4 separate regions of the Homo sapiens genome follow, and all the other regions are linked to region 1. The links come from fine-mapping of genetic effects on gene expression. A gene starts in region 1. Each other region holds a variant in brackets. All regions are shown on one strand. Distances are between the middles of the regions.

Region 1 (8,103 bases):
TAATGTATAATGTTCCTTTTGTCAGAAACCAACCCCCCAGGAATAATTTCTCCCTAGATTAACAATTTCTCATTCTTTAGGTCTTAGCTCAATGGCTACCCCTCCTCAGACTGGAACAGACAGCACTTTACAACCTGTGGAAACTCTCTCACCTTTCCTGCATAGTACTAATCACACGTGTAATTTTTTTTTTTTTACAGCTCTATTGAGGTATAATTTACATTACCATAAAATTCACCCATTGTAAGTGTAAAACTCAGTGACTATTTTTGTAAATGTATCTGAAGTTGCCACATCACTACAATCCAGTTTTAGAACATTTCTATCACTCCCCCCAAATTCCCATGAGCTAATCTGCAAACAATCTCTGCTTCCACTCACATTTTTTGTTGTGGTTGTTTTGTTTTTGAAACTGAGTCTCGCTCTGTCGCCCAGGCTGGAGTGCAGTGGCGTAATCTCGGCTCACTGCAACCTCCACCCCCCTGGTTCAAGCAATTCTCGTGCCTCAGCCTCCCAAGTAGCTGGGATTACAGGTGCGTGTTACCACGCTTGGCTAATTTTTACGTTTTTAGGAGAGACAGGGTTTCAGCATGTTGCCCAGGCTGGTCTTGAACTCCCGGGCTCAAGTAATCCACCTTCCTTGGCCTCCCAAAGTGCTGGAATTGCAAGCGTGAGCCACTGCCCCTGGCCTCCACTCATATGTAACTTTCCTGGATAGTTCATATAAATGGGATCATGCAGTATGTAATTGTTTGCATCTGACTTTTTGCTTAGCACAGTGGTTTTCAACCTGGGGCAACTTTGCCCTCCAGAAGACATTTGGCAATAATCGGGAGATGCATTTGCTTGTCACAACTGAGAGAGGCTACTACTGGCATCTTGTAGGTAGAGGCTCGTAATATTGCTAAATATCCTACAATTGGCAGGATAGTTCCCCACAACAAAGAATTTTCTCACCCAAAACATCAATAGAGCTGAGGTTGAAAAACCCTGACCTTTTTTTTTTTTTTTTGAGATGGAGTTTTGCTCTCGTTTCCCAGGCTGGAGTGCCATGGCGTGATCTCGGCTCACTGCAACCTCTGCCTCCTGGGTTCAAGCGATTCTCCTGCCTCAGCCTCCCAAGTAGCTGGGATTACAGGCATGCGCCACCACGCGCAGCTAATTTTTTTTTTTTGTATTTTTAGTAGAGACGGGGTTTCTCCATGTTGGTCAGGCTGGTCTCAAATTCCCTACCTCAGGTGATCTGCCTGCCTTGGCCTCCCAAAGTGCTGGGATTTACAGGCGTGAGCCACCGTGCCCGGCTGCCTTTTTTTTTTAATAGACAGGGTCTTACTCTGTCACGCAGGCTAGAGTGCAGCAGTGCAACCATGGATTACTGTAGCCTTGACCTCCCCAGGCTCAGGTGATCCTCCCACCTCAGCCTTCTGAATAGTTGGGACTACAGGTGCATACCACCATGCCTGGCTAATTTTTGTATTTTTTGTAGAGATAGGGTCTCACTTTGTTACCAGGCTCCTAGGCTCAAACTCCTAGGCTCAAACTAGGATCCTCCTGCCTTGGCCTCCCAAATTGCTGGGATTACAGGCGTGAGCCACTGGGCCAAAAACCCTCAACTTAACATGTTTTTGAGGTTCATCCAGGTTGTAGCAATTATTAGTATTTCATTCCTGAATAGTATTTTATTGCTGAATAGTATTCCATTCTAAGGAAATATCATGAGTTATTTATTTATTCACCTGTTGATGACATTTGGGTTGTTTCCAGTTTTGGGCTGTTAAGGGTGATGTTGCTAAGAACATTTATATTTAAGTCTTTGTGTGGACTTATGTTTTCACTTGGGAGGGGTAACTTCCTAAGAGTGGAATTGCTAGGTTATGTGTAAGTTTATTTTTTGTTTTATTTATTTATTTTTGAGACAGGGTCTCACTCTGTCACATAGACTGGAGTGCAGTGGCACGATCTCGGCTCACTGCAACCTCCGCCTCCTGGGTTCAGGTGATTCTCCTGCCTCAGCCTCCCAAATGGCTGGGATTACAGGGACCCGCCAGCATGCCCTGCTAATTTTTGTATTTTTAGTAGAGACGGGGTTTTGCTATGTTGGCCAGGCTGGTCTCGAACTCCTGACCTCAGGTGATCCACCTGCCTGTGCCTCCTACAGTGCTGGGATTACAGGCACGAGCCACTGTGCCTGGCCTATGTTTAACTTTTTAAGAAACTGCCAACTATATTTCAGATTGGTGGTACCAATTGGTATTCTGCTGTACCTACCGGCAACATATGAAAGCTACAGTTTGTTTATTTATCTACATGATGATACTTGGTATTGTCTTTTTGATTTTTAAATGTCTACTCAACTCTTTTGCCCATTAAAAAAATTGAGTTGTCCTCTTATTGAGTTATAAGAGTTATTTTTATATTCTATATACAACTCTTTTATGACACATGATTTGCAAATATTTCCTCCATGTCTGTGTCTGTGGCTGATCTTTTCATTTTCTTATGAAAATATCTTTTGAACCTCAAAGTTTTTTTTTTATATATTTTTTTGAGACAGGGTTTTTCGCTCTGTCGCCCAGGCTGGAGTGCAGTAGTGCAATCATGGCTCACCGCAACCTCCGCCTCTTGCGATCAAGCAATTCTCCCACCTCAGCCTTATTTATTTATTTATTTATTTATTTATTTTTTGAGCTGGAGTCTCGCTCTATCACCCAGACTGGAGTGCAGTGGCACGATCTCGGCTCGCTGCAACCTCCACCACCCGGGTTCAAGAAATTCTCCCGCTCAGCCTCCTGAGTAGCTGGGATCACAGGCACACGCCACCAGGCCCGGCTAATTTTTGTATTTTTAGTAGAGACAGGGTTTCACCATGTTGGCCAGGCTAGTCGCAAACTCCTGGCCTCAGGTGATCTGCTGGCCCAGGTGATCTGCTGGCCTCGGCCTCCCAAAGTGCTGGGATTACAGGCTGAGCCACCGCGCCCGGCCCTTAGCCTCATTTAATCATCACAAGAAACTCTCTGTCTTCAGTAGGTACAATGAGATCACATCTTAAGGATGGAGATGGGAGTTAAATTCCAAAGTTAGGATAAAGGCAAAAGTGGTGTAATAAAAATTACCTAATTTATTTATTTATTTGAGACAGAGTCTTGCTCTGTTGCCCGGGCTGGAGTGCAATGGCGCTATCTTGGCTTACTGCAACCTAAGTCTCCCGGGTTCAAGTGATTCTCGTGCCTTAGCCTCCCGAGTAGTTGGGATTACAGGTGCGCCTCCATGCTCAGCTAATTTTTGTATTTTCAGTAGAGATGGGGTTTCACCATACTGGCTAGGCTGGCCTAGAACTCCTGACCTCAAGTGATCTGCCCGCCTCGGCCTCCCAAAGTGCTGGGATTACAGGCGTGAGCCACCATGCTCGGCAAAAACAACAACAACAACAACAAAACAAACAAACAAAACTACCTAATTTAAACACTGAAGTGAGATTGCCTGCTCACCGAGGAACGTATGGCCGTTGGGTGAAATGGGAGGGGACTTATAAACTCCCCTCCCACCCACAGCTCCCATGTTTGACTTGAAATAAGTTAACTACGATATGACTCTGCTTGACTGTTGTCCTCCTCGTTTTAGGGATGAGGGAGTGGAGCCATGAAGTGGGCAGGTAGAAGGGCAGAATGGAGGCCGGCTCCCTGCAGGTTGTGGAGCGAAAGGTCCAGACTAAGGCAGGAGCTGAGGGACAGGGTCCTGAAGCTGAGACGAGATCGCAGCGGGGGCTTCTAATTCCTCAGGGAGCCAAAGGACAGAGGGCTGAACCCTATTCCACATCTCCCCCGATCCGCGACCCTTTCCCAACTGGCTACTCACCTGCTCTGACCGCTCCAGGTTTCCCTAGCCACAGTTACCGCCGCGGTCCCTGCGTTGCTAGGTTACCCGCCAATCTCAGAAGGCGAGACTCGGTGTCTGACTGACCTTTCTTTTCACCATTCAATTTATTGTTCCGCTCAGTTGTCCCCACCTCCTGAAGTCTGACCAATCAGAAGCACCGCCATTTTGACCTTTCACCAATGGAAAGACTTGGGACTCCCTCTGGGTTGGACTCAACGAGTAAGGCGGGGAACAAGGGAGGAGTAAGGGGCGTGGATTCTTCGTCCCGCCCCTTCTTAAGGAGGCGGGCAGGGAGTACCGCATCGGCGGCGGGCGAGACCTGCGGAAGGACGTGATAGTTGGCCAATCAGAGTTCATCACGGTAGCCCAGTTAGCCAGTAGGACGCTGTGAAGGGGAAATGGGGCGGGGCCAGCGGGGTTGAGAGGACGGTAGGCGGTGGATAGGAGAGCTGGCGCAGCTGCCCTGGTGGCAGTGGCTGAAGTGGCGGCGGCTTCGGCGGCTGCGGCGGCTGCAACAGCTTCGGGCTCGGGGTTTTGGCGGCGGCGCCGGCGGGCTAGGCTGCGCGGTGCGGACCCCGGCGCGCGGTCCGGGTTGCTGGGGCGGCGCGTGTAAGAATCCGAGGGATGCGACGGCTTGGCCCGAGGGAGAGGGCAGGGATCAGGGGTCAGAGGACGCGGAGTAAGGGGTTGCGGCGCAGCACTCTGGTGTGGGAGGTGGGCCGTACGGGCCCAGAGGGGGCGCAGGGAAGTCTCCACCGCGCTTCTCTCCGTCCAGCCCGGGCCGGGGCTTTGCACCCTCTCTCCTCGCCCCCGACTTCTTAGGGCGACCCTCACGTGGGCTCCCAGCCAGGGGCTGGGAGCACGTGGAGCTGGAGCCAGCTGTCCTGCCTCCTTCTTCCTCCCTCCCTCGCTCTTCTCCCTGGCGCCCTTAGGTGACCCCACAGGAGTCTTGTGCCTGGGTCAGGCTGCCCCAGCGGACAGCGGGATGGTAGCTGAACCTCTTCCCCTAGGCCCTTTCCCCAGCGCTGGCCAGTTGGGTCCTCTGTAGAGGCAGAAGCAAAGCCCGCGGAGGGAACACTGGACCAGGACGCAGGAGTCCCGGGTTCTAGCCCTACTCCTCCACTGTGTGACCTTGGGCAAGTCTCTTCCCCTCTCTGGGCCTCATTTTTGTCTGTCTGGAAAAATGACGTGTTTGAATTCAAATCAGGGGACTGGTTCTAGTCGTAGGTGTATATAGGGTAATGGTTAAGCAGGCAGGGTCCCTGATTCAGACTGCCTGGGTTGAAACTTATAAAAGGCAAGTTAACCACTCCAAGCTTCAATTTCCTCATTCCTAAAGTGGGGATATTAGCTAAGATAGGATTTTTCAACAGCAGCTCAGTTGACATTTTGAGCCACATAATTCTGTTTCGGGAGGTCTCACCTGTGCATTGAAGCAAGTTCAGTGGCATACCTGGACTCCACCCACCAGCAATCCCCCCACTCCCAAGTTGTGACAGTCAAGATGTCTCCAGACATTGCCGATGTCCCCATGGGGGCAAAAATCACCCCAGTTGAAAGCCAGTGGGCAAAGGCAGTACAGGCAGGCAAGCAGTCATATATTAAACAGTTAAACAACCGTGTTGAAGCATTTGAATGCGAGGACTTTAATCTATGGTGGCAGATATCATGAAAATTATGCATGAACAACCCCCCTGCCTCTTTTTTTTTAGCTCATCATTAATGGTAGTGTATTTTATGTGTGGCCCAAGATAGTTCTTCCAGCGTGGCCCAGGGAAGCCAAAAGGTTGGACAGCCGTGAGTTAAAACATAGAAACCACTAGCCATTATGATAATGGTAACATTAAGAAACCTCTTCTCTGTGAGTTAATAAATTCTCCTGCCTTCAAAGTAAACATGGGAGATAATTGTCAAAGCTGAGTAATGGATACAAGGAAGTTCACGTATATATTCTCTGCACTTTTGAGAATGTTTGAAAATATCTGTGGTAAAAAGTTAAACCAAAACGACAATACAACCATAATTCTTAAGACTGCCAAATAGTAGTGTCTCATCTGGGATTTCCTCTTCTGCCTTTCCACTGCTGAGATTTAAAAGCAAAATAAATCCCCAGATCTGGAGGAAACTTAAGAAAAAAAAACTCACAGGAAGTGTGCTGGGCAGAGAGCTACGGGCTTAGCAGCAAGTAGAATGATGTTTACTTTCGCTGCCTTGTTTCAAAACGTTGTACTGTTCCCTGTGGATGCACAAGGATTTGCTTGGAGTTGTTCCAATGATTCGAGGAAGAAGTCAGTTGCTCAGCTGCCATTGACTAGGTCAGTTGGGAGGCAAAGTGGGTTGAGCCCAGAGCCCACAGCTTGAGGAAGGAACCTGCTGCTGTTTGCAAGTTCAAAGGTCTGCAGTCAGATCTGCTGAGTCTTTTTTTTTTTTTTTTTGGTTCTTCTCAGCGGAAACGGGAATGTGCATAAATAGGAGCTGTAACAGGCTAGCTCGGAGTGTTTTACTTATTTAGTTATTTTTAAATTTTTAGTTTATTTATTTTTTGAGATGGAGTCTCGCTCTGTCGCCCAGGCTGGAGTGTAGTGGCGTGATCTCAGTTCACTGCAACCTCTGCCTCCTGGGTTCAAGTGATTCTCCTGCTTCAGGCTCCCCAGTAGCTGGGATTACAGGCATGCACCACCACACCTGGCTAATTTTTGTATTTTTAGTAGAGACCAGGTTTCGCCATGTTGGCCAGGCTGGTCTCAAACTCCTGACCTCAAGCGATCCACCTGCCTCGGCCTCTCAAAATGTTGGGATTACAGGCATGAGCCACCACTCCCGGCTGCTCTGAGTGTTTTAAATTGGGAGTTAAGGATGAGCACTTTTACTGTATTAAAAAATACTCACCAGTTAAAAAAAAATACTCTTTTCCCCTTCCTCGGACACCTAAATCTAAGAGAACAACTCCTATATAAAAATGATATAAAAATCATACATTTTGGAAGTATGTTTCTAACTGTTCTGAGAGGCTGCATGGTAAAGCTGAAGTGAAAGATGTATTTTAAATCTGTATATATGAGCAAGTATATATTGATGATTGAAGCTAGGTGCTGCCTAAATACATGGCCCAGACTTTGAGGAATTATAGTGTAATGGCTGGGAATACAGGTTTGGAGTCACACCGTAGAGCTGAAAGCTTGGCTTTTATTTAGCTGTGGGTCCTTGGGCAGGATACGTAATCTGTCTGTGCCTGAAATACCCACCACACCCATCCTGTAATGGGGGGATAATAAGCCTGCCTATCTCATGGGGCTATTAAGAATTTTCAGTTAACTTTTACTTATGAAGTGCTAGTAGGGTCCCTCATACATAGTACGCACTCATTGAGTATTAACTATTATTATTATTACTATTTTGAGACGAGTCTCGCTCTGTCGCCCAGGCTGGAGTGCAGTGGTGCAATCTCGGCTCACTGCAAGCTCCGCCTCCCGGGTTCACGCCTTTCTCCTGCCTCAACCTCCTGAGCAGCTGGGACTACAGGCGTCTGCCACCACGCCCGGCTAATTTTTTGTATTTTTAGTAGAGACGGGGTTTCACCATGTTAGCCAGGATGGTCTTGATCTCCTGACCTCGTGATCCGCCCGCCTCGGCCTCCCAAAGTGCTGGGATTACAGGCATGAGCCACCGCGCCTGGCCGCATATTAACTATTATTTTAATGGTTGTATTTTTTTGTCATTTAATTTAATTAAATTAATTTATTTATTTATTTGAGGTGGAATCTGGCTCTGTCGCCCAGGCTGCAGTGCAGTGCACCATCTCGGCTCACTGCAACCTCTGCCTCCTGGGTTCAAGTGATTCTCCTGCCTCAGCCTACAGAGTAGCTGGGATTACAGGCGCAAGCCACCACACCCAGCTAATTTTTGTATCTTTAATAGAGGCGGGGTTTCTTCATTTTGGCCAGGCTGGTCTTGAACTCCTGAGCTCAAGTGATCCACCCGTCTCTGCCTCCCAAAGTGCTGGGATTACAGTTGTAAGCCACCGTGCCCAGCCTTTTATTTTACTTTATTTTTTAGAGACAGGGTCTCACTCTGTTGTCCAGGCTGGACTGCAGTGGTGTGATCATAGCTCACTATAACCTCCAACTCCTGGGATCAAGTGTTTCCGTCACCTCAGCCTCCCAAGCAGCTAGGCCTACAGGCATATGCCATCATACCCAGCTAATTTAAAATTTTTTATTTTGTAGA
Region 2 (8,103 bases), 95 kb before region 1:
AGATGAGGAAAATGAGGCACAAGGAGAAAGAGTTTTGTCCATGGTCTCACAGCTAGCAAATGGCAGAGCTGGAATTTGAATGCAGGCAGTATAGTTAGTTCTAGGGCCAATGCTCGTAGCCATGTGCCATCACACACTTCCCCCTGGTATAGAAAGAACTTCATCATGTAATCCCAACATACTCTCCCCTCAAAAAAATCTTGGACATTTCTCCCCTCTGTATTTCTCTCAACACTTTGAAGATATTGTTCCACTGAATTCTAGCTTTCCATCACCAGGCTGGAGTGCCGTGGCACAATCTCAGCTCACTGCAGCCTCAGCCTCCCAGGCTTAAGCGATCCTCCTGCCTCAGCCTCCCCAGTAACTTGGACTACAGATGTATACCACCACAGCTAGCTAATTTTTTGTGTTTTTTGTAGAGACGAGGTTTTGCCATGTTGCCCAGGCTGGTCTCGAACTCCTGAACTCAAGCCATCTGCCTGCCTTGGCCTCCCAAAGTTCTGGGATTACAGGCAGGAGCCACTATGCCCAGGCTTTTCTATCTATTATAATTCTAAGGACTATGTCTCTGATGCACTGCAGTTTCATCACAATGTGTCTAGATACAGATTTTTTAAAATCCTGCTGAGTAGAGATTGCACTGCTTCTATTTATGGAATCATATCCTTCCTTTATTTCTGCAAAATTCTAGATGATTGATTTTTTAAAATTATTTCCTCTTCCCAATTTTTGTTATAATTTTTGCCTGTCTCTAATTTTTAAAATTCTATCCTTCTGGAACTCCAATTAAATAAATGTTAAACCTCCACAGTTATTTTCCATGTCTCTGAATTTCTATTTTATTTTTTCTCCTTTTCCTCTGAAACTAATTCTGAATAATTTCTCTAGACCTTTCTTCCAGTTCACTAAATCTCCCTTTAACTATGAATAATCTGATGTTTCACTCAACCACTCCATTTTTTATTTTGACAATTATACTTACCTCTAAAAGTTTTATTTGGTGCTTTTCTAAAATCTGTCTGCGTAATTACTTGTAATTTATTGCTGTTATTGCAGACCTTTCTTGTGATTACATCTTTTATTTCTTTAAATCTGATTCTTTTTAAAAATCCCGTATATTATAATTACAGAATCTAAAGTCTTTGTGGGTCTAAATCAGATGATTATTGTTTCTGCTGACTATTGCCCATGGTGTCTCATTTCCTTGTGTGTTTGCTGATCTTTGATTGTGAAGTCATGTTTGTTTGATCTTACTCTGGGAAACCTAAGTGAACATGCTTATCCCTAGAGAGGAGCAGGAGTTGGTTATTCTGGGACCCCTTGAGGGTCTCAGCCTAATGGAGAATTCTCATGTTGAGTAACATCCACCCTGCCCCTTGTCCAAGTTTTAGTCTCTTTGTTGAGTGTAGAATTGATACTGACGTCTGCTTTCAGGGAAATCCTTCATGGTCTCCTTGCTTTTTGTTTACCATTCACTGTTAGGTTTTAGCTAATGGTTTTTGTTTTTGTTTGAGATGGAGTCTCACTCTGTCACCCAGGCTGGAGTGCAATGGTGCAATCTTGGCTCACTGCAAACTCCACCTCCCAGGTTCAAGCAATTCTCATGTCTCAGTCTCTCGAATAGCAAGGATTACAGGCACCTGCCACCATGCCCATCTAATTTTTGTATTTTCAGTAGAGTGGGTTTTCACCATGTTGGCCAGGCTGGTCTCGAACTCCTGACCTCAACTGATCCGCCAGCCTCGGCCTCCCAAAGTTCTGGGATTACACACGTGAGCTATTCCACCCAGTCTCATGACTTGAGATGGAAAAAATACTGAGGGATTTCCCGTTCTATAAAGAAGTTTGGCCTGGCATGGTGGTTCACACCTGTAATCCCAAAAGTTTGGGAAGCCAAGGTGAGCTGATCACCTGAGGTCAGGAGTTTGAGACCAGCCTGGCCAACATGGCAAAACCCTGTCTCTATGAAAATACAAAAAAAGTTAGGCATGGTGGTGCATGCCTGCAATCCCAGCTACTCCAGAGGCTGAGGCATGAGAATCGCTTGAAACTGGAAGGCGGAGGTTGCAGTGATCTGAGATCATGCCACTACACTCCAGCCTGGGTGATAGAGCGAGACTCTGTCTCAAAAAAAAAAAAAAAAAAAAAAGTTACCACAAGTCCAACAATGTATTAGGAACCCTATTTAATCCAGGATCTCACTGTTGTATAGCAGGAGAGTGCTTTTGAGGATTGAGTCCCGCCAGCTGCTGAAAGTAGAAGTCTCATCTCACATCTCTCTATCTCCACTGCAGCCTCCACATTTCCGCCACATGCTTGCAGACACATGGACACGTTCCTTCTTTTCTTGCTGCCTGTTCTGTGGGAATGTGTTCTGTTTTCCTATCCAAGTCCACAAGTTCCTGCAAGCCAGGCCTCAAACTTCACTCATTTAATTTCACTGCCCTGGGAGGATGTTTGAGGTACACTGGGTACAGCTCAGTGGGCAGATTAAGAGCACAGATTTTGGAGGCCGACAAAACTTGGGTTGGACTCTGATTTCTGAACCTTCTAGAAGGGGGAAGTCACCTCCCCTCTCTATGCCTCTGTATATTGGAGATCATTCTGGTGGACACTTCACTGGTGTGTTGAGAAGTAAAGCGCTTAGCACCATGCCTGGCATATAGTAGGCCCTCATGAAATAGGATTATAATGATGATCAGCACATAGTAGGTTTTCAACTAATTCCCACTGAGGGAAATAATGCATTATTCAATAAATGGTATTGAGACAATTAACAGTCATGTAGACAAAAAGTAATAAAGTTTAATCCTTACTACATACCTTGTATCTAGGCAAATTCCAAATAGATCAAAGACTTAAATGTGTTTTTTGTTTAATGCAATAAATGGCCAGGCATGGTGGCTCACACCTGTAATCCCGGCACCTTGTGGGGCCAAGGCAGGAGGATTGCTTGAGGCCAGGAGTTCAAGATCAGCCTGGACAACATAGTGAGAACTTGTCTCTTAAAAAAAAAAAAAAAATACATATACATATATGTGTGTGTGTTTGTGTATGTAATACATTAATGTTAGAAGGAATTATGTTTTAAAATGTTTCTCTTAATCTTAGAGTTGAGAAGTTCTTTTTAGGTCTAACAGAAAATTCAGAACCAAAAGAAAAATATGAGATTAAATATAGAAAAAGAAATTTTATACATGAAAAAATTACAGGCAAAGTCAAAACGTAAGAGACAAATGGAGAAAAAATATTGCAGCTAATTTGACAAAGAAGTAACTGCCCAAATATGTAAAGAGCTCCTACAAATCAATAAGAAAAGGCAAACAACCTAGTGGGGGGAAATTCATGTATAATATGAGTAGACAATAAATGGAAGAGAAAATAAAGTGATTCTTCAAAACTGTATATAAAAAAGGCTCATGGAGAAGTGCAAAATAAACCTATGCTGAGGCAATATTTCACCTATCAGATACACGATCAAAAAGTTTGATAACTGGCTGGTCTGAGTGCGGTGGTGTTTACAACTAATTGATCACAAAAAGTTTGATAACTGAGAGAGTGTGGGGTGAGTGAACTGCTACCTCTTCCATGGAGGGTAATTTAGCAACAACTATCAAGTATGCAAATGTGTGCACTCTTTAATTCACCTCTAGTAATTTATCTGACCGATGGATATAACTTACATATGTGTGAAATTTTATTTGTACAGGCTAGTTATTGTAGCATTGCTTGAACCAGGGAAAGACTATGACCTCCCTAGATGCCATCAGTAGGGAACTAGCCAAATAAACAATGGTAAAGCCACACAATGAAGCACCACGATGCCATCCCAAACGAAGAATGCGGAAACTCTGAGACCACTGTTATAGGAAGATCTCAGAGATACTTAGTGAAGTGAAAAGGCAAGGTACAGGCCGGGTGCAGTGGCTTATGCCTGTAATCCCAGCACTTTGGGAGGCTAAGGCAGATGGATCACTCGAAGTCAAGAGTTCGAGACCAGCCCGGCCAACATGGTGAAACCCCATCTCTACTAAAAATACAAAACTTAGCCGGGTGTGGTGGCAGACCCCTGTAATCCCAGTTACTCAGGAGGCCAAGGCAGGAGAATTGCTTGAGCCCGGGAGGCAAAGGTTGCAGTGAGTTGAGATTGTGCCATTGCACTCCAGCCTGGGCGACAGAGCAAGACTCCGTCTCAAAAATAAATAAATTAATTAATTAAAAAAATTTTAAAGGCAAGATACAGAGCAGAGTGTAAAAGGCTGCAATTTGTATAAGCACAGAAAAACACAGTATTAAGAGCGCAGACTCGGCTTGGTGCAGTGGCTCACACCCGTTATCCCAGCACTTTGGGAGGCCAAGGCAGGTGGATCACTTGAGGCCAAGAGTTCAAGACCAGCGTGATTTCACATGGTGAAACCCTTCCTCTACAAGAAATACAAAAATTAGCCAGGTGTGGTGGTGCACGCCTGTAGTCCCAGCTACTTGGGAGGTTGAGGTGGGAGAATCACTTGAGCCAGGGAGGTTGAGACTGCAGTGAGCCAAGACTGCACCACTTCACGACAGCCTGGGTGACAGAATGAGACACTGTCTCTCTCTCTCACACACACACACACACACACACACACACACACACACACAAAAGGCATAGACTCTGGAACTAGACAACTTTGGTTCAAATCCTGGCTGCCTCACTTAATAATGTGATCTTGAGCAAGTCATTTAACTTTCTGTGCCTCAGTTTATTCACCTATAAAGTGGGCATTAATAATTAGAGCACCTGCCTCTCAGGGTTATGATGAACCTACATCACTGAGTCCATAAATATAAAGAATTAGTGTTCAGAATAATATTTATATATAATTATTATATATAAATATGTTATATGTTTATATTTATTATATATAAATATGTTATATGTTTATATTTATATATACAGTATATAAATGTTTGCTGCTGTTATTATTTTTAAATTATTTTTAGTAGCAATGGGGTCTCCCTATGTTGTCCAGGCTGCTCACGGACTCCTGG[G/C]CTCAAGCGATCCTCCTGCCTCTGCCTCTGCCTCTGCCTCCCAAGGTGCTGGGATTACAGGTGTGAGGCACAATGCCCAGCCTGCTATTACTACTGTTACTTGCTTATATATGTTTAAAATATTTCTAGAAGGACATACAAGAAGCTGACAATGCCAGGAAGGGAACAGAGTAGCTGGGGTGCTTATCATAAAATCTGAATGTTGAACTAGGCAAACAAATTAACTGCTCAAAAACTAAAGACAAGGCTGGGCATAGTGGCTCACACTTGTACTCCCAACACTTTGGGAGGCCAAGGTGGGAGGATTGCTTGAGCCCAGGAGTTTGAGACCAGCTTGGGCAACATAGCAAGACTCCGTATCTATAAGATATTTCTGAAAAAATTAGCTGGGTGTGGTGGTGTGCACCTGTAATCCCAGCTACTCCAGAAGCTGAGATGGGAGGATCGCTTGAGCCCAGAGGTTCAAGATTGCAGTGAGCTATGATAGCACCACCGCACTCCAGCCTGGGTGACAGAGCAAGACCTCATCTCTAACAACAACAATTAAAAGCAAACAAAAAGTAAAGACAAAAGCAACAAGAGAAATAAGTTTCCACTGAAGGCTCTGTGCTTCACCGTGCCATGTGCTATGCCCCTGCAAATGCCCACCCTGGGCATGGCCCCCTCCTCCCTCTGCCCATGTCCCTCGCCCACCTCGGGGGTCGGCTGTAATCGCCTCCCTGCTCAGCGAGATCTTGCCGATGATGTCGTCGTGCCTGCAGGAAGGCGGGCACGTGAAGGTCTGAGTCAGGGGCCCCTTTGCCCCGCCCCAAGAGAAGTGGGGGCAGGTGTCAAGGTCTGGGTGGGAGGGCACACCCTCGTGGGCTGTGGACCCACATCCCCTCTCCCCTCAGGTGCCCAGGCTTGGGTCCCTAACCCACACATTCCACTTTCCCCAACCACAAACCCGACAGTGTCCTCATCCAGCACGTAGAAGGCCAGCTGGTGGAAATCCAGAGGCAGGTGCACCGTGTACTCCTCCCCCCAGAAGGGGCCCAGGCTCCTCCAGACAGTAGCTGTCCTGCAAAAGGAGGTGCAGGGGGCTGGGGTCCTCGGGCCACACAGGAGGCAGACACCTGGAGACCCAGACACACACACACACACACACACACACACACACACACGGGAATCCAGACACACACACACTCAGAGACCCCCCACATGAACCCAGTTAGAGGCCCAGACACACACACACACCCAAGGACAGCCACTCCAAGATCCTAGATATGTACTCACCCAGGGACACTGGAGCATGTATGAATCCAGGCATAGAAACACACACAGACCCCAACACTCACATACCCAGAGTATCAGACATACACCAGAGATCTCAACACACACACACACACACACACAGAGGCACATACACAAAACACACACATGATCCTACACACCCACATACAGGGCCCCAATACACATCTAAGGTCCCAGATACACAGAGACCAACAGACATGCATAGCAACCAACAGAAACATATGTGCAGATACACACACACGGATTCACACTGAGACAGAGTTGCTCACAGATACACCAAGGAGGCCAGAGACAGAGACACATTTACACATAAGCAGATACACATATGCACCCTCAGAAAGTCCTAAAAACATGTACCTTTGTGTTTGGAAATCCAGACACCAGACACATGCAGATAGACACATAGAAAACAGACACATATGAAAACATATGAAAATAGACATATGTCGGGAACACAGAGACACACTCAGAGATCCAGAGACACACTCTCACACACTTACAATGATACAAGGCAGGTACACATAGAGACACACACACAGTCATACAAACACACAGTCACTGACACACACACACACACACACACACACACACAATTCCATTCATTCATTTGTTCATTCGTTTACTCCATAAACATTCACTTGGACTATGGGCCCAGCCTGTGCTGGGCTCCAGGGATCAGAGGAACAGGTGTCAGGGCTGCTTACCCCACAGACCCCCCTTCCACAAGCAGGCGCTCTCTCCCAGCAATTAGGACATGGTGGGAGAAGTCCTGGGATTGGGGTTAGCTCAATCGCCCCTGGTTGGGTCGTGGGGGTAGGGTCGGAGGGGATTAGGGAAGGCTTCCTGTAGGAGCTAGTCAGGCAAAGTGGGGAGAGACAATGAGGACAAGGACAAGTATTCCAGAAGGCTGGAACAGCATGGGCAAAGGCCCTGTAGCAGGAATGAGTTTCGTGAGCTGAAGGAATAGGAAGGTGCCTGGTGGGAATGGGGGAGGGAGAGGGGCCAGGAGACAGGAGGTGAGCAGGGGACAGAGCACTCGGGGCTTTGAAGCACACAGTGAGCAGGAGGAAGGCACAGGAAGGATGGGGACCAAGATAAGCCCAGAAACAGGTGCACACACACAGCATCTCTGCCCTGACATCCCTGCAGGGGTACTTCCCTTTACCCAGCAGAGAACAGATTCTACTTGCCCGGTAAAGACACACCCACATTTGTGGATGCAAAGTTTGGTTCTCATACCTGTTGCTCCCTTCCTCCCTCCTTTCACCACACTGTGCCCTAAGAAAGAGTGCACATATGCGCGCGTGCGCGCACACACACACACACACCCCGCCTTCTTCCTCCAGCCCAGCGGCACCAACCTCAGATGGACCCCCAGTGCTTCCTCCCAAATACCCTCTTCCCCCAACCTGACCTTTTCCCAGCCAAAGGTCTTCTGAACATTCCCCAGCTCCTGAGCTGAAAGGCTTCTTACAGCCCAGAGAGGGAGAGACAGCAGCCTGGGGTCACACAGAAAATCAATCTGTGGGTTTGGGGTGGTGTCAGGGAATGTATCAAGGGGCCAGCATGAGCACTGGGAGGACAGTGGAGGGGAGTCAGTGGAGGGGGGAGCTACAGCTGACCCCTCCCCCAGGCAGGCTCCCCACCCCCAGCTCTGAGCCCATCTGGACCAGAATAGGAGCATCCTGAATCCTGCCGTCTCCATAGGAACCAAGGCCTCAGCCACCCACCAGCCCACCCACCCCCATCAGGCCTCCAGGGGCTGAGAGCTGTCCCTCGGCC
Region 3 (8,103 bases), 63 kb after region 1:
CATGCACGAAGAGTGTGGTAGGTGGTTGCACCTGCCCAGAAAGAGATAATAATAATTAAGGATACAGTAGGGGGAACAAGTGCGTAAATTTACATTTTAACTTGTCTTTTCTTCAAATAGGTATTAATATCCTTGTGAAGTCCAAGGCCTTCCAGTATTTCATGTGTAAGTGTGAAATATCTCCACTCTAGGCCACTTTCCCCCTGAGTCCTTTGCTGTTCTAGAAGCGGGAGAGGCAAGAGATTGGTCCTAGAGTCCTGTGTTTGACTTTTTATTGTGGGGAATTCCCAGCATGTATAAAAGTGAAGAGAACATTACCACACGCATCCCCGTGCCCATCACCCATCTGTATCTTCACTCCGGCTCATCATCCTCTCTAGACCTAGATTTTTTGGAAGCAAATTCCAGAACCACAGAGTTGACTGGTCGATATGTCTCTTGAGTTTGTTTTAATCTATAGGCTTCTCTTCCTCACCTCATTTAGGTGAGGAAGCAGGATTTGGGTTTTGTATGTTCCTCTGTTGCCTTTTCCTGGAATTTGGTAGTTCTGTCTAGAGCCATGCTGTGCAGTGTGGAAGCCACTGGCCACATGTGGCAATTTACATTTAAGCTAATTAAAATGAAAAATTCAGCTTAGCTGTCACATTTCAAGTGATTAATAGCCACAAATGGCTAATGACTACCAATTGGATTGTGCAGATAAGAAAATTTGTATTGTCACAGAAAATTCCCTTGGACAGTACTAACCTAGAGGCTTGATCCAATTTGGTCTTTCCAAGGAGCTCTGGTTCCTTTTAGTAGGAAATGGTGTTAGAGACACAATTCGAGGTGCTGGGTGCTCATTGCTTGGGTTGGTCATTGTTTCTAGGCCTTTCCATGGACAGAACTAGGGTTTTGTTTTTTTTAAAGATAAACTGTTGTGCGTTCATGCTAATACTTCACATTCAGGCCTACAGCAATTTTAAGATTAAGAATCTAGATGTGTAAGACTGATTTCATCAATCTTACACGTCTAGATTCTCAATCCTTTTTTTTTTGAGACAGAGTCTCATTCTGTCGCCCAGGCTAGCGTAATCTGTGCTCACTGCAACCTCTGCCTCCCAGGTTCTAAGTGATTCTCCTGTCTCACTCACCTGAGTAGCTGGGATTACAGGTGTGTGCCACCACGCCCAGCTGTTTTTGTATTTTTAGTAGAGATGGAGTTTCACCATGTTGACCAGGATGGTCTCGAACTCCTGACCTCAGGTGGTCCACCTGCCTCAGCCTCCCAAAGTGCTGGGATTACAGGCGTGAGCCACGTGCCTGGCCTAGATTCTCAATCTTAAAATCCAGGTTGTCTTTGAAGACAATCAGACACCAACAAAGAAAAAAAAATAAATATCCAGGTTCCCAACTACACTGGCACAGTTATTCATTTGCTTTGTCTCACAGTCCCAGGATAACAATTGCAAAGCAATCCCAATGATATAATTACTAGAAACATCATTCCAATGATGTACATTCAGATTACTGTGGGTTTTTTTGTTTGTTTGTTTTGAGACAAAGACTTAGGTCTGGTGCCCTAGTGGCATAGTCATGGTTCACTGCAGCCTTGACCTCCCAGGCTCAATCCATCCTCCCACCTCAGTCTTCTGAGTAGCTGGGACCACAGGTGCATGCCACCACACCTGGCTAATTTTTTAATTTTTTGTAGAGACGGGGTAGCCTCATGTTGCCCAGGCTGGTCTCAAGCTCCTGGCCTCAAGCCATTCTCCTGCCTTGGCCTCCCGAAGTGCTGGGAGTACGGGTGTGAGCCAGTGTGCTTGGCCTTGTGTTTTAAGGTCATGTGGGATAGTTCCTCTCCATGTGGACATGTCACCAACTGGATACACATTTGGATTTCTTTTTTTTTTTTTTTTTTTTGAGACAGAGTCTCACTCTATCTCTGTCACCCAGGCTGTGGTGCAGTGGCATGATCTTGGCTCACTGCAACCTCTGCCTCCCAGGTTCAAGCAATTCTCCTCCCTCAGCCTCCCAAGTAGCTGGGATTACAGGTGCCCACCACCACACCCGGCTAATTTTTTTTTTTTTTTTTTTTTGAGACAGAATTTCACTCTGTCACCCAGGCTGGAGTGCAGTGGCGTGATCTCGGCTCACTGCAAGCTCCGCCTCCCGGGTTCACACCATTCTCCTGCCTCAGCCTCCCAAGTAGCTGGGACTACAGGCACCCACCACCACGCCTGGCTAATTTTTTTGTATTTTTAATAGAGACGGGATTTCCCCACGTTGGCCAGGCTGGTCTCGAACTTCTGACCTCAGTTGATCCACCTGCCTCGGCCTCCCAAAGTGCTAGGATTACAGGCATGAGCCACCGCATCCGGCCTACACATTTGGATTTCTTTATGCCATGTTATTTTTTATTTTGGGGGATTGCTTTTGGCATTTAATTTTGTTTTATGGCCGGGCATGGTGGCTCAGACCTAAAATCCCAGCACTTCAGGAGGCCGAGGCGGGTGGATCACTTGAGCCCAAGAGTTTGAGACCAGCCTGGGCAACATAGTGAGACCCCTGTCTCTACAAAAAAAAAAATACAAAAATTAACTGGGTATGGTGGCTCACACCTGTAGTCCCAGCTACTTGGGAGGCTGAGGTGGGAGGATCACCTGAGCCTGGGGAGGTTGAGGCTGCAGTGTGCCATGATCGCGCCACTGCACTCCAGCCTGGGCAACAGAGTGAGACCCCCCTATCTCAAGAAAAAAAAACCCAAATTTTGTTTCATAATTATGTAAATTAGGCCTGGGCATGGTGGCTTATGCCTGTAATCCCAACACTTTGGGAGGCCGAGGCGGGCAGATCACTTGAGGTCAGGAGTTCGAGACCAGCCTGAGCAATGTGGTGAAACCCCATCTCTACCAAAAATAGAAAAAATTAGCCATGCACGCCTGTGGTCCCAGCTACTTGGGAGGCTGAGGCAGGAGGATCACTTGATCCTGAGAGGCAGAGGTTGCAGTGAGTTGTGATGGTGCCACTGCACTCCAACCTGGGTAATACAGTGAGACTCCATCTCAAGAAAAAGCAAAAAAAAATTATGTAAAATACTTACATGGTTCCAAGTCAGATCTACCAAAAAAAGTATATTGAAGGAAGTTTAGTTTATATCCCTGTCACTTCCCACAGTGGGCAACTTTTATGTATGGCTTCTCCTTCCATTGTTTAAAACCTGTAAGTTGGATACCTATCAATATATCTGTCTTAAACAATAGCATATTTTATGCACTTTTTTCTGCCACCTGGCTTTTTGCAGTTAACAATATGCCCTGGAGACCGTAATATGTAGAAATGAGGCTGGGTGTGGTGGCTCACACCTGTAATTCCGGCACTTTGGAAGGCAGAGGCAGGTGGATTGCTTGAGCCCAGGGGTTCAAAACCAGCCTGGGCAATGTGGCAAAACCCCATCTCTACAAAAAATACAAAAATTAGCTGGCGTGGTGGTGTGCACCTGTGTTCCTAGCTACTCAGGAAGCTAAGGTGGGAGGATTGCTTGAGCCCAGGAGGTGGACGTTGCAGTGAGCCAAGATCACGCCCCACTGCACTTCAGCCTGGGTAATAATAAAACCCTGTCTTAAAAAAAAAAAAGTAATATGTAGAAATGTACCTCATTTCTTTTCTTTCTTCTCTCTTAGAGAGAGGGTCTTGCTCTGTCACCCAAGCTGGAGTGCAGTGGCACAAGCATAGCTCACTGCAACCTTGACCTCCTGGGTTCAAACGATCCTCCCACCTCAGCCTCCTGAGTAGCTGGGCCCACAGGTGCACACTACCACACCTGGCTAGTTATTTTTATTTTTTGCAGGGATTTGGTCTCCCTGTGTGCCCAGGCTGGTTTCGAGCCCCTGGGCTCACGCAATCCACCTGCCCCAGCCTTTCAAAGTGCTGGGATTACAGGTGTGAGCCACTGTACCTAGCCTGTGTTTCTTTTTTATGGTTAAAGTATGCCAGTTTATGAATGTATCGTAGTCTGTTCAACCAGTCCCCTACTGATGATCATTGAGATTGTTGCCAGTGTTTTGCTATCACAATAGTGCTGCGGTGAGTAGCTTTCAGATACATCTTATATTTTTGCTAGTGTGTCATTGGGATGGTTTCTGGAAAGTGGGATTGCTAGGCGAATGGCTTAATGCATATGCAGTTTTTCTAAAGAGTTCATGCAATTATTTTAAAATTAGAAGTCTCTAGGGGAAAACAAGTGTTTTCAATACTTGAATGCCTGGTATATTGTCCCTCTTTTACCTCAATTTGGAATAATCTCTACATCATAACTGGTATTCATACAGTGACAGAGGGAGTGTTTTTAGAAATTTATAGCTGTTTCTAGGTGAAAACACTGGTTGATTTAGCTCCCTTGGTAAGAGCACTGAGCAGAAAGAAGTTCCCTATCAAATGGGTGTGTGGAGCAGCCCTGTTCTCCCCATCCCGTAGAGCTCCAGGAAGTTAACCAGGGACTTCAGCTGCGACCTGCAGATTTCTAAGCCCCCCTGTTATTTCTCTGTCTTTTACGGGCCTGTGTATTTCAGACTTGGTGGTGGCAGTCAACGGGGTCTGGATCCTCGTGGAGACATTTATGCTGAAAGGTGAGCCCCGCTCAGGGACTGGCCGTGTCCTGGCCGGCACACCTGGCTTACCTGTGAGCTGCTACTTCTCTGTCTTACAGGTGGGAACTTCTTCTCCAAGCACGTGCCCTGGAGTTACCTCGTCTTTCTAACTAGTACGTTTCCGACATGGCTTTGCTGGACTGCTTGTTTTAAAATTGTCTGGGAGAACTTTCATTCAGTGTAGAACCTCATGGTTCTTCTCTAAAACAGGAAGCTATAAAGAGACGGAGTAATCAGTCTGATTCCATCTCGTCCCCGTTTAAAACTCTTTCGTGGTTGTCCGCTGCCCTCTGG[A/G]TGGAGCCCAGATCCTAGGCGTGTGTGACCCTCCACTCGGCTCTGCAGCCCTGCTGTTTGCCAGCGCCGTGTCCCCCGCTGCACACTGTTGCTCTCCTCAGCAGCCTCTGCTCCCTGCTGCTCTTGCCTGCCTCTGGGCTGTGCACAGGGGTTTCCTCTGCCTGGTGGTGTCTTCCTCTAACCTCTGCCTGACTTTCCTGCTCTTTCCATCAAGTCTGAGCACACTGTGTTGTCATTCCCTGTTGGCGTCTTTCCTCCCACCTAGCTGATAAGCTCTGTGCCCCCAGGGTTGCCCTGCACTGGTCACTTTTGCACACCTGGTACCCAATGCAAGGCCCAAGGTAGAAGGGGTAGTCAGGACACACCTGTTGGATGGACAGATGGTTAGCTGGGCCCTGCCCAGAGACAGGCAGGGAGGATTTCTCTCTCTTTTTTTGGGGCAGGATCTTTCTCTGTCACCCAAGCTGGAGTGCAGTGGCGTGATCATAGCTCACTGCAACCTCAACCTCCTGGGCTCAAGGGATCCCGAGTAGCCTCAGCCTCCCAAGTAGCTGGGATTACAGGCACACAGCGCCACAATGCCTGGCTAATTTTTGTATTTTTTGTAAAGATGGGGTCTCACTATGTTGCTCAGGCTGGTCTCCAACTCCTGGGCTCAAGTGGTCCTCCTCTCTTGGCTTCCCAAAGTGCTGGGATGATAGGTGTGAACCCCTATGCCTGGCCAGTTTCTCTTAAGCAGATTACCCAGTTGGCCACCATCTAGGCCCTCTCCTGGAGCACCTGCTCTCACGCTGGGACATGAGTGAGGCCTGGGCTCAGCCTGGAGGGCTTATGGCCAGCAGGGAGGCTGCAGACTGTGGAGGAGCCTCAAAGAGGAGACCGAGCATGGGGGAGGATGTGGCGGGGCTGCTGCCGATGGATTCCTTCTGTCCACAGTCTATGGGGTGGAGCTGTTCCTGAAGGTTGCCGGCCTGGGCCCTGTGGAGTACTTGTCTTCCGGATGGAACTTGTGAGTGGACAGCATGTTTCTGACCCAAAGCTGAGACTCTTGAGGATGGCCCCAGACCCTTCTCTGCACACCCTGATCCCGGGCCATTTCTGGAATCGCAGAGGGAGGGTCTGAGGATGGGCTGAGGCCTATGTCTCCCTCAAGCAGCCCTGCCCACAGCCCAGGAACTCCCCAGGGTCAGGCCCTTGTCTGAAGCCTCTCAGACCACCCACACCGTCCTTCTGGAAACGGCCTCTTGAGGTGCCATAGACTGATTGGCTCTTCCTGACTCATTAAACTTTTTTCTCTTCCATAAAAGCCACAATGCCCACAGAAAAGAATGCTCCCCCCCTTCCTTGATCAGCAGTAATGAGACCCCATGTGGCCCTTCTCCCTATTCCCCAGAGCGTTGGAGGTCACTTCCCTGCCCTGTTCAAGTTAACCGGCCTGTGAAGTCAGGCTGCACTCATGAGGTCTTGGGCCGCGAGGGTGAGCGGGTTAACACGCAGAGCGGAGTTGGGAGGAGCCGACAGCACGTGTGTGCCCTGCGTGTCTGGAGAGGAGAGAGGGTCCTCTGGCTTGGGGCAGGGCGAGCTGTTCTCCCGATGGGAATCTCACTGGAAGGGCCTGCTCTCTTCCCTCAAAAAGTTCCTTGGGGTCAGGCTGGTCTGCAGTGTGTAACCAGATGTCTGTTGAGCGGAAGACGAGGCCTGTCTCCAGGGCTGCGGAGGCCAGGGCTGCAGAGGCCGGGGCTTCTTTCCTTCTTGTCGTTAGACCAGCATGGGGCCCTTTGTAGGGGTTCCCGGGCATTTCTGGCCTTGGGGTCAGAGCACTGAGGCCTGACCCGTGAGACGCATGCTGGGACAGGGCCTGGCCACCTTGAAACCCCAGGGTGGCAGGAAGTTCTTCCCGCAGCCGGCTGGTTCCTGTTGGTGTTGCTGTGTCTGGGCTCTGTGGGAGGGTGGCTGTGCACAGGGCCAGGGAGGGGAGCAGGCGCAGGTAGGCTCAGGGCCACAGGGTGGACCTTGGCCTCTCCCCTACTGCAGGTTTGACTTCTCCGTGACAGTGTTCGCCTTCCTGGGACTGCTGGCGCTGGCCCTCAACATGGAGCCCTTCTATTTCATCGTGGTCCTGCGCCCCCTCCAGCTGCTGAGGTGATGGGCAGGGCAGAGCCGGAGACAGGGAGAAAGAGAGGGAGGACGGGAATGCCCCAGGATTGATCCGGGAAGTGACCCAGAATGAGCCAGAAGGTTCACAAGCCAGAGTCACAGATGTCACCCCCTGGAGAATCACCATGGGGTCAACATCCCCACCCCTGAGGGTGTGCAGGCTGCCTGTGCCCTTCCCCTCACTGCACCAGGTGCCTCTGGGCAGAGAAACCCAGCCCATGACTCATGTGCACCCCACCTGAGGTGGCATTGCACCAGCGACAGGAGCCCATATGCTCAAGTCACAGATCACAGAGCCACAGGTCTGAGGGTTGGAAGGGCCTTTCAGGGGCCCTGCGTGCTTTTCTGGCTCAGCGTCTTATGGAGAAAAACCCTCGTGTGGGTCCCACTGGTTTCCCAGGGACACTGGAGAAAGTCCCAGACGAGCCTGCCCCACTGACGGTGTCTCTTCCTAATGAGGGGTCCCGAGGTCCTGTGCCCTCAGAGCCTGGGCTTGCCTCCTGACCCTCCAGCTGCAACCCCATCCACGTCCGCCCCATCCTCTCCCAAGGCGGGACAGGCGGGGCAGGTGCGGGGAGGGGTGGTGGCGTCTATGGAGGAAAAGCCTACCCCCTTGGCGTGTGGGGGTGGCCTGGGGCTGCTCCTGAGTGTCCGCCTCCGTCCCGCCCCCTGCCACCCTTCTTCACTGGTGAGCTCCATTGCCCCCGCTCCCCGGGGCACATGGGCTTCTCCCCGCTCTTTCCCAGGAGCAAGGCCTTGCTCCTGTCTGAGCCTGCAGCTCTACTGCAAGGAGATGTGGCCTGGCCCTGCTCCTCTTCGTGGAAGGACCCCGCCCAGCCGGTGTCCTGGGGCTGCCACCATCCCTTCCCTCATGCATGAATCACCTGAGCCCAGCTCAGGGTTGGTGGCGCCCAAGGGAGTGGACGCAGGTGGAGGAGAGGCCCTCACCTGTCTTCACCGCATGGCGTGTGGAAGGCGGGGCCGGCATGTTCTGAGGGCGGGGGCTGAGGCGTGCACCTGTGTG
Region 4 (8,103 bases), 96 kb after region 1:
GCCTCTACTAAAAATATAAAAATTGGCCGGGCATGGTGGCGGGTGCCTGTAGTCCCAACTACTCAGAAGGCTGAGGCAGGAGAATTGCTTACCCTAGAGGTGGAGGTTGCAGTGAGCCGAGATCGTGCCACTGCACTCCAGCGTGGGTGACAGAGTGAGAGTCTGTCTCAAGAAAAACAAAGAAAAATATCAAATGTAATAGTATAGAGTAAGAGCAAAATTGAGAAGATGGTCTGTGAATGACTGATGTGTGGGAATCACTCTTTTAAGAAGCCACAACAAATACAAAAATTAGCCAAGCATGGTGGCAGGTGCCTGTAATCCCAGCTACTCGGGAGGCTGAGGCAGGAGAATCACTTGAGCCCTGGAGGCAGAGGTTGCAGTGAGCTGAGATCATGCCACTGTACTCGGGTCTGGGTGACAGTCAGACTACGTCTCAAAATAAAATAAAATAAAAATAAATAAATAAATAAATAAAGATGCCACAACGCTTGTGAAAGCAAGTCCCTGGATTTGCCCTGGCCTGAAAGGCAAGGCTTCCCCGCTCCGTAGAGAATGGATGGAGAATGGAGGGCTGTGATGAACCAGACGGCCCTAGTGGGTGGCCCTTTTCAGCTCTGAGTCACTCTCTATCAATCATCTCTCCTCCTATCTCCTTCCCTCCATGTCTGCATCCTCCCACAAACCGGGGGAGAAATTCACAGGGAATGTGGCAAGGAGGCTGTTTCATCCCGATGGAGTTTCATCCCGACACTGTTACAGCACACAACACCATGCCCAGCCATGCATCTGCACCAGAGTCCTACCCCCACCTCCAGGCGAAGCCCCTGGGCTGAGGGGGAGGAGCCTAGATGATAGGAAACAGACAGCATGAGATACTAAAGTTAGACAACAGGAAGAAATCTGGGTAGCAGAAGTTAGAAGACGTTGGACAAGCCTGGGCGTTTCCTCAGCCAGAGCAGGACAAGAAAGAAAAGGACATTCTGGGGCAGATGGGGAAAATTCAAATGCCAGTGGGGACCAGCCAGGTCACATAAACGAGGGAAGGGGCACCCAACAGGCAATGGAGGGGACTGTGATGATTTAGGCCACAGGCACCCCATAGGGGGTGCCCCTTCTCTGCTCCAGCCAGTTTTGCCTTCAGGAATGTGGCCCAGATCTTGAGAAGCCAAAATCCAGATTTTAAGATAAAATCCCCCAATTTTTAAATGCAGGCAAACAAGCTAGAGGGCTGGATTTGGCCCTGGGGTCACCTGTTTTGCAGCCTCCATCTGGGGCCAGCAAGATTGGATCAACTGACTGCAGGAGGTCCCCTGGGTGAACTTCCAGGCTGGTGTCCCTTATGGCACAAGCGCATAGTAAGCGCCTGCTGTATATCCAGGTTTCTGCCTCTAGCCCAAACCTCCCTCACGTGGTTGAGAAGAAAACTCCACTGGCTGTGCACGGTGGCTCACGCCTGTAATCCCAGCACTTTGGAAGGCCAAGATGGGCGGATCACTTGAGGTCAGGAATTTAAGACCAGCCTGGCCAACATGGTGAAACCCCGTCTCTGTGAAAAATACAAAAATTAGCTGGGCGTGGTAGTGCACGCCTGTAATCCCAGCTGCCCAGGGGGCTTAGATGGGATGATTGCTTGAACCCGAGAGGTGGAGGGAGGTTGCAGTGAGCTGAGATCGTGCCACTGTACTCCAGCCTGGGTGGAAGAAAACTCCAGAACGTGGGAAGGAGTAGGAAGGTGGGTTGGCCCGGGGTAGGGGATACTCACAGGTCCCCGACTGCAGGGTCAGGACCACAACCAGGGGGCTGATAACCAGATGCAGACAGTTGAGGGGCCGTTTCCAGTTCTGGTCATCCTTGTCCGGGTCCACGACGGGGACTGTGAGGAGCAGCAGGAACTCCACAGGCAGCTGTCAAGGGGGCAAAAGTGGGAGGGTGTCGGCAGGGAAGTCTGAATCCCAGCCGGCCACAGATGGACTTCAGTGACTCAAGAGCTCGGCCGTTCATTGCTGAAGCACTGACTGTGTGCGGGTTCCAGGCTAAGTGCCTGGTTGCCTCTGGCTACTGGGACAAATGACCACAAACAGTGACTGTCAATAGCACAGATGTATTCTTGGACAGTTCTGGAGGGCAGAAGTCCTGAAGTCAAGTTGTCAGCAGGGTTGTTCCTTCTGGAAGCTCTAGGGGAGACTGAGGGTCCTTCCAGCTTCCAGGAGCCACCTGCCTTCCAGGCCCCACATCATTCCACCCTGTGCTCCTGTCGCCACTTCTCAGTCTCTGACTCTGACCCTCCTGCCTCCCTCTTTCCTTGTGCCAACCCCTGTGATGACACTGGGCCCACTGGATAAGCCAGGCTCATCTCAGATCTTTAATGATGGCTGGATGCGGTGGCTCACGCCTGTAATCCCAGCACTTTAGGAGGCCGAGGCGGGCGGATCACGAGGTCAGGAGATTGAGACCATCCTGGCTAACACGGTGAAACCCCGTCTCTACTAAAAATACAAAAAATTAGCCAGGCGTGGTGGCGGGCGCCTATAGTCCCAGCTACTCAGGAGGCTGAGGCAGGAGAATGGCGTGAACCCGGGAGGTGGAGCTTGCAGTGAGCCGAGACCGCGCCACTGCACACTCCAGCCTGGGCAATAGAGCGAAACTCTGTCTCAAAAAAAAAAAAAAGATCTTTAATCACATCTGCAAAGGCCCTTCTACCATAAAGGTAACATACTCCCAGGTTCCAGGGGTTAGGATATGGATGTCTTTAGGGGCCACTAGAGGGCAGAGCCCCAGGTCAAGCCATCAGCCAAGCTCCACGCCTCAGTTTCCCCATCAAATCACAAGTCATGTATTCTGAGAGGGTCTCAGTGGACCCCAGGCCCTCCCCCTCGTAGAGCTGGAGAGGGTAGCGTGGCCACTGTCTTGCTGCTGTCAGAAGGCTGTGAGCCTGGCTCCAGGACCCTCCTACCTTGAACACCTTGAGGGCTTTCCAGTATGCTGATTTCCTTCTCCACTTCATGTAATCCAGGGGATTGAGGGCCCGGACCAGGATCTGAGCCGTGGTCTCCTGGTAGAAGAACAGCGGCCGGTACTCATCACCTGTGTGCAGGGGTCGGGTGGTGAGGTGTGCCTGCGGCTGACTTGCTCTCCAGGAAACCTTCCCCGCTCCATCCCACCAGTCCTCCCAGCCCTAAAGGAGGAGACAAAGCCCAGTACTCGGCAGAGGGCAGACAACCCTGGCCCTTGGCTCACCTGAGCTGCAGTGAGAGGTGGGGCCGATTTGGAGCCTCATTCCTGGAGCCCAGGTCTTGGAGGGCCCCATCTTTCCACCCCCAGCCTTTCCCTGTTACCGCCACCCTGGCTGGGCACAGGGCACGGACTCACCGTAGTCATAGCTGTTGGTATTAGAAGATACCCGGTCCTCCTCGGAGTCTGAGAGGATCTCTGCAGGAGAGAGGCCCAGTTACATACAGAACCCAGACCATTTTCGAGGGGGCACACTGGGACAGAGCAGGTTTAGGGGTGCAAGTGTTCAGGCCATCTTATTTACTTAGTTATTTGGGACAGGATCTTTCTCTGTCACCCAGGCTGGAGTGCAGAGGTGTGATCACAGCTCACTGCAGCCTAGACCTCCTGGGCTCACTCAATCCTCCCACCTCAACCTCCCTCCCTCCCGAGTAGCTGAGACTATGCCCAGCTAATTTTTAAAAATTTTAGAGATGGGGTCTTGCTATGTTGGCCTGGCTGGTCTCAAACTCCTGGCCTCAGCAGTCCACCCGCCTCAGCTTCCCAAAGTGATGGCATTACAGGCATGAGCCACTGCGCCCGGCCACGTCCAGGCTGTCTTTATTTTGGATTTCTAGCAGTCTGCATGCGTGCTCAGGGATTCTTACACAGTGAAAGTCTAATTCACCAAACATGGCCAAATGTAAGCATGCAGCTATAATGCTAAAGTTAATAGGGGCATCTGAAGGCACAACTCAAACATTTATTGACTTCAGTGTTGTCCTTTTCAGAATCTGGAACCCATACTATTTTTCTCTTCTCAGGAGGCCTGTGGATGCTGAGAGGCCTGGGACCTGTATGGAGGGGCCTGAAAGGAAAATGGCCCTCCTCGAGTGAGGAGTTAGCTCTCGCCCTGATTCTGCTGCTGAGTGTGTTGTGTGTGTTATCTA[T/A]GTATGTGCATGTATTTGTTTATGTGTGTGTGCATGTATTTGTATGTGTGTTGTGTATGTGAGTGTATTTGTGTGTGTGCATGTATTTGTGTGTATTGTGTATGTGAGTGCATGAATTTGTGTATGTGTATGCTGCATGTTTGTGTGCATTGATGTTTTTGTGTTGTGTATGGCATGCATGTATGTGTATGTTGCATGTGTGTGCATGTATCTCTGTTGCAGGTGTATCCTGTGTCTATACACATTTGTGTGTTGTGTGAGCATGTATTTATGTGTGTTGCATGTGTGTGCACATATTTGTATGCATGTGCATGCATCTGTATGTGTTGCATGTGTGCATATATTTGTGTCTGTTGTATGTGTGCGCATGTTTGTATAAGTGTGTTGTGTATCTGTGTATGTTGTATATGTGTGCATGCATGTTTTGTGTTGCAGATGTGTATGCATGTATGTGTTGCACATGTATGTGCATGTATTCATATATGTGTTGTATGTACACATTTGTGTGTGTGTTGTGTATTTGTGTTGTGTGTGCATGTATTTGTGTTGCATGTGTGTGAGCATGTATTTGTGTATGTGCGCATGCATGCATCTGTATATATGTTGCATGTGTGTGCATGTACTCCTATGTGTGTTGTGTGTGTTGTATATGTGTGCATGTATTTGTGTGTGTGCATATATTTGTATGTGTGTTGTGTGTATACACGTATGTGTATGTGTTGTATGTGTGCATGTATTTGTGTGCATGTACATGTGTGAGTTGTGTGTGTGCATGTATGTGTATGTGTGCATGTATTTGTATATGTGTGAGTTGTGTATTTGTGTATGTGTGTTGTGTGCATGTATTTGTGTATATGACTGTATTTGAATATTATTGATTTCTTTGTATTTATTTTTTATTTCTCAGTGTCCCTGTCACGGCAGCGTTTGTGTTTTACCCTGAGAATGGTGGGAAACATCAGGGCAGGGAGCAGTGGCGATTCTTAGAGAGATGGCCCTGGCAACTGCATAGAGAGAAGGAAGGAGTGCACTTGAGCCTGCAGGTGATGCAGAGGCTCATGGGTACCAGTGGAAGCACGGAGGCGGGACCTCAGCAGAATGAGTAGAAAGAGCATGAAGAGGAGATGAGCTTGGTGGGGACAATGGCCTCAGGAGACCCTGGGCAGCACTGAAGGGCACAGAGGCCCCCAGTCCCCACTGGTCCTCTCTGGGGTCCGATGCAGACTCTTACCTGGAGTAACTGGCATGGGGCAGAACAGAGATCCTCTCCGTTGCCGTTGGTAGATCCAGGTGCAGAGAATCACAGTGACCACATAGAACACATACAAGCCCAGGTAACCTGCAGACGGGGTGCACGCCGTCACCAAGTGGTGTCCTGGTGCAGGTCTAGAGAACAACAGCTGGCAGTTCTATCAGTGGTGCGTGTTAGCGGTGGCAATCTGTGTTAGCCCATCCAGGTACCAGTGGGTAAATGGCCTTTTCCTTGAGCTCCCCACTCCTTCCTCCTGCCTTCCAGGACCATCTCCCTTCCTGTCTCCCTTGCAATCAAGGAGGTAATACCCAAGCACAGCGAGAGACCTCCAGGTCCCCATTCAAGTACTAAGGGTCGGTGTCCTGCTCTGTGCCCTGGGAGGAGGCAGCCCTGTAGCTCTGGCTACAGCTAGGTTCAGCCAATGGGAGGCCAGACAGGAAATCAGAAGCAGCGGGAGAGACTCTGGAGTCTTTCTTCCTACTCCCTCCCTGTTGCGTGTCTCTGGCAGGGCTTGCAACCCTCTTCAGTATAGCTCCAGGCCTCCAGCCCTCCAACTCTCACTGGGCTCCACCACCCCCTTCCCTGCCCCTGCTGCCACGAGGGATGAGTGCGTTCGCAGCTCCCATTGTTGCTGGCCCCTGAGTATCTCGAATCTCGGTTTCCCTTGCTGGTTTCATTTTCCTTCTGTACAAATTGTCCCTCCATTCATACCCCTTGAGCCGTCTGAATGGAACATGTTTGCTGTCACGATCCGGGTGGCCCCAGTTAGCGTCCCATCTTTACTGCTTGTTAAAATTGGAAATTATGAAACTTTCTTTTTTTTGAGACAGAGTCTTGCTCTGTTGCCCAGGCTGGAGTGCCATGGCACAATCATGGGTCACTGCAGTCTCGAACTCCTAGGCTCAAGGGATCCTCCTGCCGTAGCTTCCAGAGTAGCTGGGGCCACAGGAATGCACCACCACCATGCCCAGCTAAGTTTTTTCTTTTTTGTAGAGATGTAGTCTCGCTATGTTGCCCAGGCTGGTCTCAAACTCCTGAACCAAAGTGATCCTCCTGCCTCAGCCTCTCAAATTGCTGGGATGATAGGTGTGAGCCATCACGCTTGGCCAAAAAATTGTGACACTTTTGAATACTCCCTCCCCAGCCCCCAGCTCTGCCAGGCCTCTTTGGTTATGTGACCCACATGTTCCCATTTTTGCTCAAGCCAGCTTGAGGAGGGTTTCTGTCACTTGTAATCAAATCAAAGCCCCCACTGACCACCCCTCACACCTCTCTGTCCCAGGCACCTCCTAAACCTCCTGCCCATCAGCCCTGGGATCTCACGCCTGAGCCCCAGAGCTGCTCACCCAGAGCCCATGCCAGGGTGACCCTGCCACGGAAGAGCATGAGGAAGGTCAGGAACACAGCCACCATGTAGAAAACGATGTCCCTGAAGAAGGGCCTGGAGGCAGCCATGAAGGGGTGTAGGATGGTAATGCCTCCGGCCACCACTGTGGTAACCAGCACGCCAGCGCCTGGGGGGAGGAGGCCAGAGCTCAGCCACCCTGCACCCTCTCCTGCTGCTTTCCCCGCCCCCCTCACTGGGGCTGCTCTCACCAAACAGTGCCCCAAGGGCCAGGCCGGCTGTGTGCGGGTCAGAGAAGGCCACCAGGGCACTGAAGATGTCAGGTGCACCATTCCCAAATGCCAGGAAGGTGACGCCATGTGGGGAGCATGTCAAGGCGGGCCAGGATCGCAGCTGCAGCCCACCCAGGCCTTCGACCCTATCCCCCAGCTTCCCCACACGGGGATAGACATGACCCTATCTCCCAGCCTCCCCACAACTGCCCTCCCTCCAGGGTGCAGGACACTGGACAAAAGGATACTGCCACGTTGTGGGAGAGCTTCAGTGTGGTAGAAATGGCCGACAAGTTGGGGCAGAAACTACGGAGAAAAAGCGGACGGGAAGCATTTCCGTAGTAACCGGCCCCGGACCCCTATCCTTCCCCCAAACTGAGGGTGACCGAATGTCAGCCTCCTGGGACCCCTCCTCCCATTGATAAGCCAGACCGGAGCCCAGAGCCAAACTCACAACTTGGCTGCGGTGACTCCCAGAATCAGAAACAGGTAGAGCAGCCAGGAAACCTGGGTGGGGAGCGGGCGAGGAAGGGAGAGTCAAGTCCAGCTGGAGACACCAGCCCCTCTCACCAGCCCCCCAGGGCAGGGCCTCACGTAGAGAGTGACAGCCAGAGGGAGGAGGCTGGGAGGGAAGTGGCAGAAGATGCCTTCCAGGTAGTCCAGGTACCCCCCATCACTGTGGCAGTCAGGGTTGGTCCGGATGAAGTCACAGCGGTCAGAGACATTCAGGCCACACACCTTGCGGCACTGCAGGAAGACAGGGAGGGGGACATCAGCGGCAGAGACTTCCCTGAGAACTAGACTAGGCCCATCTAAGCAGCTAAACATAATGTCCCTTCAGCCTGGTCTCCAAGGCCACCATACCCTCTGGGTGCCAACTATGGATGCACTTTTAATTTTAAAAATAAACGTCTGCTTGAAATTGACATAAGTAATTCATGAATACATATTTGTTTTTTAAAAAAACCAATACATAAGATTTCTAAATTCCGCTTTCTTATCCCTGCCCTCCGTAAATCCCCCTCTCCAGTGGTCCCACCATAATTAGTTTGAAGCACATCCTTACAGACA

What was found.
Region 2: its variant is fine-mapped to the expression of TPCN1 in whole blood (TOPMed, PIP above 0.99).
Region 3: its variant is fine-mapped to the expression of TPCN1 in whole blood (TOPMed, PIP 0.97).
Region 4: its variant is fine-mapped to the expression of TPCN1 in whole blood (TOPMed, PIP above 0.99).

What each region holds. Positions count from the first base shown.
Region 1 is chr12:113,217,142-113,225,244 of GRCh38, forward strand. TPCN1 (two pore segment channel 1) reads left to right here and starts at 4,323. Exons shown (of 28, transcript NM_017901.6): 1 at 4,323-4,485. It overlaps DRC10 (dynein regulatory complex subunit 10), which reads right to left and starts at 3,953. Exons shown (of 5, transcript NM_001330452.2): 1 at 3,856-3,953. RefSeq lists enhancers at 3,552-3,701, 7,032-7,201 and a silencer at 6,023-6,317.
Region 2 is chr12:113,122,091-113,130,193 of GRCh38, forward strand. It overlaps RASAL1 (RAS protein activator like 1), which reads right to left. Exons shown (of 21, transcript NM_001301202.2): 3 at 5,975-6,088; 4 at 5,722-5,783. Among named protein-coding and RNA genes, the nearest start is that of RASAL1, 9.6 kb to the right of the region's middle. The variant G/C (reference allele first, on the strand shown) is at 5,029.
Region 3 is chr12:113,280,031-113,288,133 of GRCh38, forward strand. It overlaps TPCN1 (two pore segment channel 1), which reads left to right. Exons shown (of 28, transcript NM_017901.6): 15 at 121-165; 16 at 4,551-4,607; 17 at 4,688-4,741; 18 at 5,859-5,931; 19 at 6,957-7,064. Among named protein-coding and RNA genes, the nearest start is that of MIR6762, 7.4 kb to the right of the region's middle. RefSeq lists enhancers at 663-832, 7,690-7,857. The variant A/G (reference allele first, on the strand shown) is at 4,923.
Region 4 is chr12:113,313,570-113,321,672 of GRCh38, forward strand. SLC8B1 (solute carrier family 8 member B1) reads right to left here. Exons shown (of 16, transcript NM_001358345.2): 3 at 7,627-7,779; 4 at 7,487-7,539; 5 at 7,281-7,338; 6 at 7,012-7,117; 7 at 6,762-6,929; 8 at 5,395-5,502; 9 at 3,373-3,432; 10 at 2,957-3,087; 11 at 1,766-1,907. Among named protein-coding and RNA genes, the nearest start is that of SLC8B1, 17 kb to the right of the region's middle. The variant T/A (reference allele first, on the strand shown) is at 4,164.